2 linked regions of the Homo sapiens genome follow. The gene in region 1 interacts genetically with each later gene. Each region holds a gene or a part of one and is shown in the gene's direction. Other genes may lie near its edges.

Evidence for each region. Genes that interact genetically often act in the same process or in processes that back each other up.
Region 2: changes in ACTL6A (region 1) and GEMIN5 together harm fitness less than expected from each alone (positive genetic interaction), as found in Homo sapiens cells (one large-scale study listed by BioGRID).

The regions. Positions count from the first base shown.
Region 1 is NC_000003.12:179,578,895-179,584,221, forward strand, and holds part of ACTL6A (actin-like protein 6A), read left to right. Parts: intron 1-1,745; coding exon 1,746-1,807; intron 1,808-1,999; coding exon 2,000-2,114; intron 2,115-2,245; coding exon 2,246-2,326; intron 2,327-4,458; coding exon 4,459-4,554; intron 4,555-5,327.
Region 2 is NC_000005.10:154,885,998-154,890,061, reverse strand, and holds the end of GEMIN5 (gem-associated protein 5), read left to right. Parts: intron 1-644; coding exon 645-741; intron 742-1,684; coding exon 1,685-1,852; 3' UTR 1,853-2,651; downstream 2,652-4,064. UniProt on the Homo sapiens protein: The SMN complex catalyzes the assembly of small nuclear ribonucleoproteins (snRNPs), the building blocks of the spliceosome, and thereby plays an important role in the splicing of cellular pre-mRNAs.

The DNA.
Region 1 (5,327 bases):
AGCTGGGACTACAGGTGTGTGCCACCACACCTGGCTAATTTTTGTATTCTTAGTTGGCCAGGCTGGTCTCTAACCCTTGACCTTGTGATCCACCCGCCTCAGCCTCCCAAAGTGCTGGGATTACAGGCGTGAGCCACTGTGCCCGGCCCTATTTTTTCACTTTTTAATAATAAATAATAGCCATTCTGACTGGTGTGAGATGGTGTATCATTGGGGTTTTGATTTTCATTTATCTGATGGTCAGTGATATTGAGCTTTTTTTCATATGCTGTTGGCCGCATGTATGTTTTCTTTTGAAGTGTCTATTAGTGTCCTTTGCCCACTTTTTAATGAGGCTTTTTGTTGTTGTTGTTCCTTATAGAAGCTAGGTATTAGACCTTTGTTAGATACATAGTTTGCAAATATTTTCTCCTATTCTGTAGGTTGTTTGCTTACTCTGTTGATAGAAATTAATGTGTATCCAGCAAAAGAAACTAAGAGTAAAATTATATGAGTCATAATTTACTATGAGAGGGATCATATCTAACAGGTTTTTTAAAAATTATTTTATTTATATCATATACACACACACACACACACACACACACACACACACATTTTAAAGACAGGGTTGGCTGGGCACGGTGGCTCATGCCTGTAATGCCAGCACTTTGGGAGGCCAAGGCAGTGGATCACTTGAGGCAAGGAGTTCAAGACTATCCTGGCCAACATGGTGAGACCCCATCTCTACTAAAAATACAAAAATTAGCTGGGTTTGGTGCTGAGCACCTGTAATCCCAGCTACTTGGGAGGCTGAGGCAGGAGAATTGCTTGAACATGGGAGATGGAGGTTGCATTGAGCCAAGATTGTGCCACTGCATTCCAGCCTGGACGACAAGAGCAAGACTCTGTCTCAAAAAATAAATAAAGACAGGGTCTCTCTCTGTCACCCAGGCTGGAGTGCAGTGGTGCAGTTGTAGTTCACTGCAGTCTCAAACACCTGGGCTCCCCCTGCCTCAGCCTCCTCAGTAGGGAGGACTACAGGTGCATGCCACCATGCCTGGCTAATTTTTTATTTTTATAGAGACAGTGTCTCGCTATGTTGCCCAGGCTGGTCTTGAACTCCTGGCCTCAAGCGATCCTCCTGTCTCGGCCTCTTAAAGTGCTGAGATTACAGGTATGAGCCACTGCATCCAGCTCTGACAGTTTTTGCACCTAAAGATAAAGATTTTGTCTGTGTGCACATGTAATATACGAGGAAAAATTAGGATGATTAGTCATTTTTCCTAGATATTAGACAAGATTTTTCTAGAGGTCGTGTTAGTTCACAACATTTTATTAAACTGTTTTATACTATGTACAGTCATTAAAAGTTGCATAAAATGTGATGTACATGCACATGTGTATATGTAGGTAATGAAATCTTGCTTCTAATCTAGCTTATTTTTAAGGAGAAAGTGGTGTTCTGAAATTGGTTTTGTTATGCAGAACTGTGGTGCAGGGGTTCCTGCACCTGCAGTTATTTATCTCTCATTTCATAACTGTTGTAACTTAAATGTGTGTAATTAACTTCTAATGCAAATGATTAGAATTAGGTTTCTTGATACTCAGAATCCTTGTTAGGTACATTTATACTCTTGAAATGATTTACCCATCTAGAAACATGGTCCAATTTCATTCAGAAAAGTATTTAAAATATGTTATAAAAGTATAGATTACAAAGATAAATCTCAACCTTGTTTGTTACTTTTTTCTTTTACTCACAGTGTGTTATCCAGGATTTTCAAGCTTCGGTACTTCAAGTGTCAGATTCAACTTATGATGAACAGTATGTTTTCTTATTAAAATGTATACTTTATAAATGAGGAAAGGATTTGTTTAAAAAATACTTAATTGAATAATGTTTAAAATATTCTCACTCCCTTTTTTTTTTTTACAAGTTTATAATTCCCTAGTAGTTTATAATTTTGAAGAGAATTATTTTTTGTCTTTTGTGTAATACGGTTTAATATGTTTTCAGAGTGGCTGCACAGATGCCAACTGTTCATTATGAATTCCCCAATGGCTACAATTGTGATTTTGGTGCAGAGCGGCTAAAGATTCCAGAAGGATTATTTGACCCTTCCAATGTAAAGGTATAAAAGCTTATTTCATAATTAGCCTGGCTTTTCCTATATAGGTAAAGAGCTTTTGTGGCTAAAATGTTTTGGATATGCTTTACTGTATGAAGAGCTTCCATGTGACTACTTGTTTTCTTTTGTTGTAGGGGTTATCAGGAAACACAATGTTAGGAGTCAGTCATGTTGTCACCACAAGTGTTGGGATGTGTGATATTGACATCAGACCAGTAAGTGCCAGTCTCCTGTTACGGTTTAAAGGTATCTTTTAGGGGACTGAAATGTCCCCAAATCATTGTTAGGTTGACAGTGATCTAATGGTTGTCAGTGTCATTGACTTTGAGGTTCATTTTATAACAGTATATGTAAAAAGATGAAGTACTAGAAAAGGAAAAATGTGAAACTCTAGAGCTATGGTGTCCAGTTTTGTAGCTACCCGCCACATGTGGCAATTTAAATTTAAAATAGATAAAAACATAAAACTCAATTCTTCAGTTGTAGTAGCCTCATTATAAATGTGGCTAGTGGCTGCATCAGACAGCGCAGATATAGAACATTTGCATCATCACAGAAAGTTATTGTAGACTGCGCTAGAGATTTCCTGAAATGTGGCAAACCAAAATATGTATTGTTGGTGATTTTCTTACAGATAGCACAACTTCTACTTTTATTTTTCAGGAAGGCGTGGTTTAAATTATATGAGTAACTTTTACATGAAGTTTATTTTAAATGCTCTTCATATTTTTTGTGCTTTGTCAGGTTTTAAATACTAACTCCATATTATATACTTCACTCATTATCAGTGATAGGTTCTTGGAGACTGCAACTTTAACTGAAACGATGTACAGTAGGTCCTTGAAGGACATTGTTTCAGGAAAAAAATTGGTTTTGTTACATGACATTTTGCTGAAAGTCAGTTTCCAAGGTCATATTGATGACATTAAATGAGGACTTACTTTATCTTATTTAAACCCAATTCAGCTTATCACCCACATACTGCCTAGATTTTGAGTAAATTAATTTGCTTAAAGCATAGTGCTAATAACTACTATGTTATTCAAAAAAGGCTTTGAGTGGCTATGAAAATCATACTTTATTTTACCTTTATTTCACCTGGTAACCTAGTAGGCATGTGATGTTTCTAGGACAATAGTAGTATAAGTTTGGGATTTTTTTAGCGCAAATACAATTCCACCTTTCGGGGAAGGTAATTGAATTGAAGTATATTTATTGCAACAGTGATAACTGTTTTTAGTGAAGTTTCTCCTTTTAACTAATGAGATACTTTTGCATTCCATTTTCTACTTCAAAATTTAGATGATTTAGACATTTGAAGTATGTTTTAAAAATAGGAACTTACCCACTAAAACAGTTTGACATTTAACTTTCTGATGCATACATGCAAATTCAAAGTAAATACACTGCTTATAAGTAGTAATTTATTTTTATTTGGGAAGGGCTTAGCATATGTGTTTTGGAAAAGCTCCCATGTGCTTCTGATGCTTACCTCTGCAAAAGAGAAAAGTAGCAATAATTTTGGCGAGGAATATGTTCAGAGTTTATCATTGTCTGTCATAATCATAAAATAATTGTCTAATTTTGAATATCCTAACTTACAGATAAGCATTCTTTTTCAAAATATTTGTAATTTTAATTTTTGGCTGGTGGTTGCAATTAATATTTCCAGATGAGCATTCTTTGAATATCCTAACTTACAGATAAGCATTCTTTTTCAAAATATTTGTAATTTTAATTTTTGGCTGGTGGTTGCTATTAATATTTCCAGATGAGCATTCTAAGATAAAGTCATTATAAAATGTACTTCTAATTAAATATTGGCAGCTATCTGCCAAAAAAAAATTATGATTTTTAGAATGATTCCTTTAAGTTAGTGGTTCTTAAAACTTTGTACACATTAAAATAATCTTGGGAGTTAAAAACCATGCCTGCCAGGTACAGTGGCATGTAGTCCCAGCTACTTGGGAGCCTGAGGCAGGATTGTTTGAACCCAGGAGTTTGAGGCTGTGGTACGCTATGCCTGTGCCCGTGAATAGCCACTGCATTCCAATGTAGGCAATATAACGAGACCCCGTCTCTAAAAGTAACCTTGCCTGGATCCCATCCCCAGACATTTTTATTTAATTGCCCCTAGGAATTTGTGTTTTAAAAGCTCCTTAGATGAGTTGAATGTACAGCCAGGATGGAGAATTGATGGATTAAGCTATTAGTTCTATATAATAGTAAAACATTTCCAAAAAACGAAAGGGAAATTGTAGTAGAGCACATGGTTATATTTGTAGTTGTATTTAAAACTTTTGGAAACATATGGAACTAATTGATTTTTCTTGTATTTTTATCCTAGGGTCTCTATGGCAGTGTAATAGTGGCAGGAGGAAACACACTAATACAGAGTTTTACTGACAGGTTGAATAGAGAGCTGTCTCAGAAAACTCCTCCAGTAAGTTCTGTTTGTTCTTTAATGGTATTCTTCAGTCATATATTTCCTCACTGATGGTGTAATTTTGTAGATAAGCGTCCATTTTTCAATAGATACATGATATTTTGTGTGTGCCTGGTATAGTATCACTAAAGTTAATATCCTTTAATCGTTTTCCTAGTTGACATCTATTAGTTTCTCTTAAATTATTTGAATCTCATTTATTAATATTTAAATATGTATAGTCTGCTAGGCACTAGTCCCTGCACACCAAGGGCTCAGTCTACTAGGATGGTTAGACATGCAGAAAATGATGACTGTAACATGCTCAACAATTCAGTATGTCATGAACGAGGTGCTGTTGGGAACACCAAGAAGCCACTACTTAACTCTCTAGGAGTATCAGAGGATAGCCTCCTGAAGAAGCTATAGTTTGAATGAATAGTTCAACTCATTGCTAATTTATGAAAGGATATCTAGATGGAGGGAATAAAACCATTTACAAAAATACTAAGAGAAGACAGGTATGTTCCAGTAATTCAAAGTAGTTGGCTTCTAGTCTTTACGTAAGTGGGGAAAGCAATATGGCTAGAAAGATGGATTAGTTTCCTAGAGCTGCCGTAACAAAGTACATGTTAGTGGCTTCAAACAACAGAAATTTGTTGTCTTATAGTTCTTGAGGCTAGAAGCCTCAAGGTGTCAGTGGAGCTATGCTGAATCTCTAGGGGAAAATACCTCCTTCTTCACAGGATAAAATCTAGCAGTGGACTGATGAGCTCATGTTTGTTTTAAAA
Region 2 (4,064 bases), on another chromosome or scaffold:
CCACTGTGGAAAACAGTACAGCAGCACTTCCTCCAGAAATGTAAAATAGAATGACCATAGGATCCAGCACTTCCACATCTGGGTATACACCCAAAAGAATTGAAAGCAGGGTCTGAAATATGTGCACACCTGTGTTCATGGCAGCATTATTCATAATACCCAAAACACGGGAGCAACCTAAGTATCCACTGACAGATGAATGGATAAGCAAAATGTGCCATATCCATACAATGGAATGTCATTCAGCCTTACGAAGGGAGGACATCATGCTGAGTGAAATAAGCCAGTCACAAAAAGACATATACTATATGACTCCACTTATATGAACTACTCAAAATAGTTAAATTTATAGAGACAGAAAGTAGAATAATGTTGACAGGGGCTAAGGGAAGCAGAATGAGAAGTTAATGTTTAATGGGTATAAGATTTCAGTTTTACAAAATGACAAGAGTTTTTGGAAATGGGTGGTGGGGATGTTTTTCACCACATTATGAATTTATTTAAAATCACTGAACTATGTATTTTTAAATGGCTAAGATGGTAAGCTTTATGTTATATACATTTTACCACAGTAAAATAACAATGGGAGAAAAATGTTACCCAGGGCAAGACATACAATTTACACCTTTTATTTTTTTCACTAGTAAAGAAGAAAAAAATGAGCCACTTTCTCTGCCTGAGTTAACCAAAAGGCTTACCGAGGCAAATCAGAGAATGGCGAAATTTCCTGAGAGCATTAAGGTAAGAGTTAAAGCAGTTCATTTGGTAAAGCATCACTTTTTGTGTTATCACTTGACTATACCACATTCTTATAAAGGTCAGCTACCTCTCTGTTCAGTTTCTAAAATCTCTACCCATTCATATGTGCTTAAGAATTTAGAATCCAGGCTGGGCGTGGTGGCTCACGCCTGTAATCCCAGCGCTTTGGGAGGCTGAGGCTGGCGGATCATGAGGTCAGGAGATCAAGACCATCCTGGCTAACATGGTGAAACCCCGTCTCTACTAAAAATACAAAATATTAGCCGGGCGTGGGGGCAGGTGCCTGTAGTCCCAGTTACTCGGGAGGCTGAGGCAGGAGAATAGCATGGAGGCAGGAGAATGGCGTGAACTCAGGAGGCGGAGCTTGCAGTGAGCCAAGATCACGCCACTGCACTCCAGCCTGGGCAACAGAGCGAGACTCTGTCTCAAAAAAAAAACAAAACAAAAAAAAAGAATTTAGAATCCAATTACTTTGGTTAGCTAGAATGTTTTGTGAGACTAGAATTATCGATCACACAAGTAATTTTATACCTCAATCTTCAGAGAAACCAAATAGATTTAATAGGTAAGAAGTAAAATTTAAATTGGTGCCATGTATTAGATAGCTTACAGATGGACAGGTCTTTTTGGCTGTGGGCCCAAATATTAATAGAAGCACCATTTTTAAGGGTGGATTTGCATAGGGCTGTAGAAAGAGATTGTGCCATTGAGAAGGACATCGCAGTAGCCATCCTAGTTTTGAGTGTCATTTCTCCTTGGAGTAACTGTTGAAGAGAAAGACAGGACATTGCCTTAGGAGACAGCTGGCTCAGCTGTGTCCAAGAAGTGTCTATAGATGAACCTGAGTGACTGGTGCCTTCTGTGCAGGTGTTTGTGGCTCTTCTGCAAATGCTTCCTTATTCATCCTCATGTCATCGTCTTTCAGGCCTGGCCCTTCCCAGATGTGCTGGAGTGCTGCCTCGTCCTGCTTCTCATCAGGTCCCACTTTCCTGGCTGTCTGGCCCAGGAAATGCAGCAGCAGGCCCAAGAGCTCCTTCAGAAATACGGCAACACGAAAACTTACAGAAGACACTGCCAGACCTTCTGTATGTGAATTTTCACACACCTTGAAGAAACTGCCAAATTGAAAATGTTTGACATCTTTCACCTCTGCAGTTATGCCTCACCAGACATTCACTCTGGTCCCTAGATGTTTTTGCAGTAATCCAAAAGAATACAAACAAGGATTAAGTTTGAATCAACCCTGCCTACCCATAGACAACGGTGGATCTGACTTTAGACTCAATTGTGGTCTCCTACTGGAGGGAAGATCATGAAAAGCCCACAGTAGTTATTCAGAACTAACACCTGCAGAGTGTTGGTCATCTCTACAGCCTTAGGCAGGTTTCACCCAAAGAGGAGAAACTTCTGTCGTCACCCAAAGTGTTACATGCTTAAAACACAAGCTACCTTTGTAAATACTTCATCTGATCAGAAGTGTGTCATGCTTGTTTGAGATGGAGTTGCTGCATTTTAGGACTATTGATACCTTTTTTTAATTGTTTTTATAATATTTAATTTGAAAGAGGAGACCCTTCTCTCTCTACTCTTTCATAGACTGAAGTTTGAATATGAAATAGGCCTTAACCATCATGTTGACTCTCCTGTCAGAATTTTAGGTTGGAAATTTGGTTTTATTCTTTCATGTAATTGCTTATTTGAACAGATCACTTACTAAAGCTTTAGAAGAAGTGATTCAAATGTGTGTTTTCCCTTCAGTTTTATAACAAATGGATTGATGGCAGTCAAATAGCTCAGGAATAAATTACTGTTTCAATGGTTCTTAAACTTTCTTGGATCATAGGATCCTTTTGAGAATCAGATTAAAGCCAAAGATACTCTTTGGAGAAAAATGCATATTCCTAATTTTGCATAGATGACCTTTGGATTATTGGACTCTGACTATTGGGACCCTAAATACTATTTAATTATAAATCTTTTTTTTCTCCTCCTTGGTTATTTAAACAGTTGAACAGTGTCAGGAACAGATGTTTCTGTAATGTCACAGTTGCTAGCATGGGAAAATCAGAGTCTGGCATGGGTGTAGGAAGGAACACTCCTTTCAGATAATTGAACTGTTTTCTCTAGGATTCATTGTGAAGGCTTTTCTGCTCACGTTTGTAGTTTATTTTTCAATTAATTCCTAGGATTGGAGCTGTTGGGACAGTGAGAATGAAATTCATTTACAGGAAGTCCCAGGAAGGAGAAAGTTTGAGGCAGTTTTCAAAGACGTGTATGTGCCTAGCATTAGAGTTTAATAAACTCACAAAGGGAAATACTGTAGAATTTAGATCCTCACAGTTCTTCATACAGTGAAGTGAACTTTAGGAAGACGATGCTTTGTTACCAGGGATGGAGAATCTTTCTTGATTGCAAAGACATAAATAGGCATGGCTAGGTAGAAAACCTAGCCTAGTTGGTAGGACACCAGTTCTACCAACTGCTAAAATGAACTTTACTTACAGAGGTGGAAAAAATATATACTCCCTTCCACTTGAGTAAAGAGTGATATTGTTAAACTAGAATTCTAAATTCCTTTGTGATCTGTCAGAAGCATCACCTGTGGGTGGAGGAGTCCTGCACACTCCTCAGTTACTGCTTTGGTAAGAACAAGATTATCTATTTGAGTCCAGGCATGGTAGCTCATGCTTGTAATCCCAACACTTTGGGAAACCAAGGCAAGTGAATCACTTGAGGACAGGAGTTTGAGACCAGCTGGGCAGTATATATGGAGGCAGTATATATTTGAGACCAACATTTGGCAGTATATATGGAGGGGCTGAATTGCACTCAGTTGCCTGGTGCTATGGTGCACGCCTGTACTCTGGATACTGTGGAGGTTGAGGTGGGAGGATTGCTTGAGGCCAGGAGTTCAGGGCCAGCCTGTGCAACATAGCAAGCTCCCATCTCTATAAGTAATGAATAAACTTTTTAAAATGAATTATGGCCAGGCACAGTGGCTCACACCTGTAATCCTAGCACTTTGGGAGGCCAAGGCAGGCGGATCACCTGAGGTCAGGAGTTCGAAACCAGCCTGGCCAATATGGAGAAAACCCATCTCTACTAAAAATACAAAAATTAGCTGGGCATGGTGGCACATGTCTGTAATCCCAGTGTTGGAAATAAGAGCTCAGAGTCACAAAGAAAATGAGCACTCAAACAAAAGACTTCTCAGCAAGGCAAATTTACGTCCGCAGAAGGGTGCTGCTGCCTGCACCAGTCACAATCACAAGAGCACACTGAACAAAGGAGAGAAAGGTTTTTAT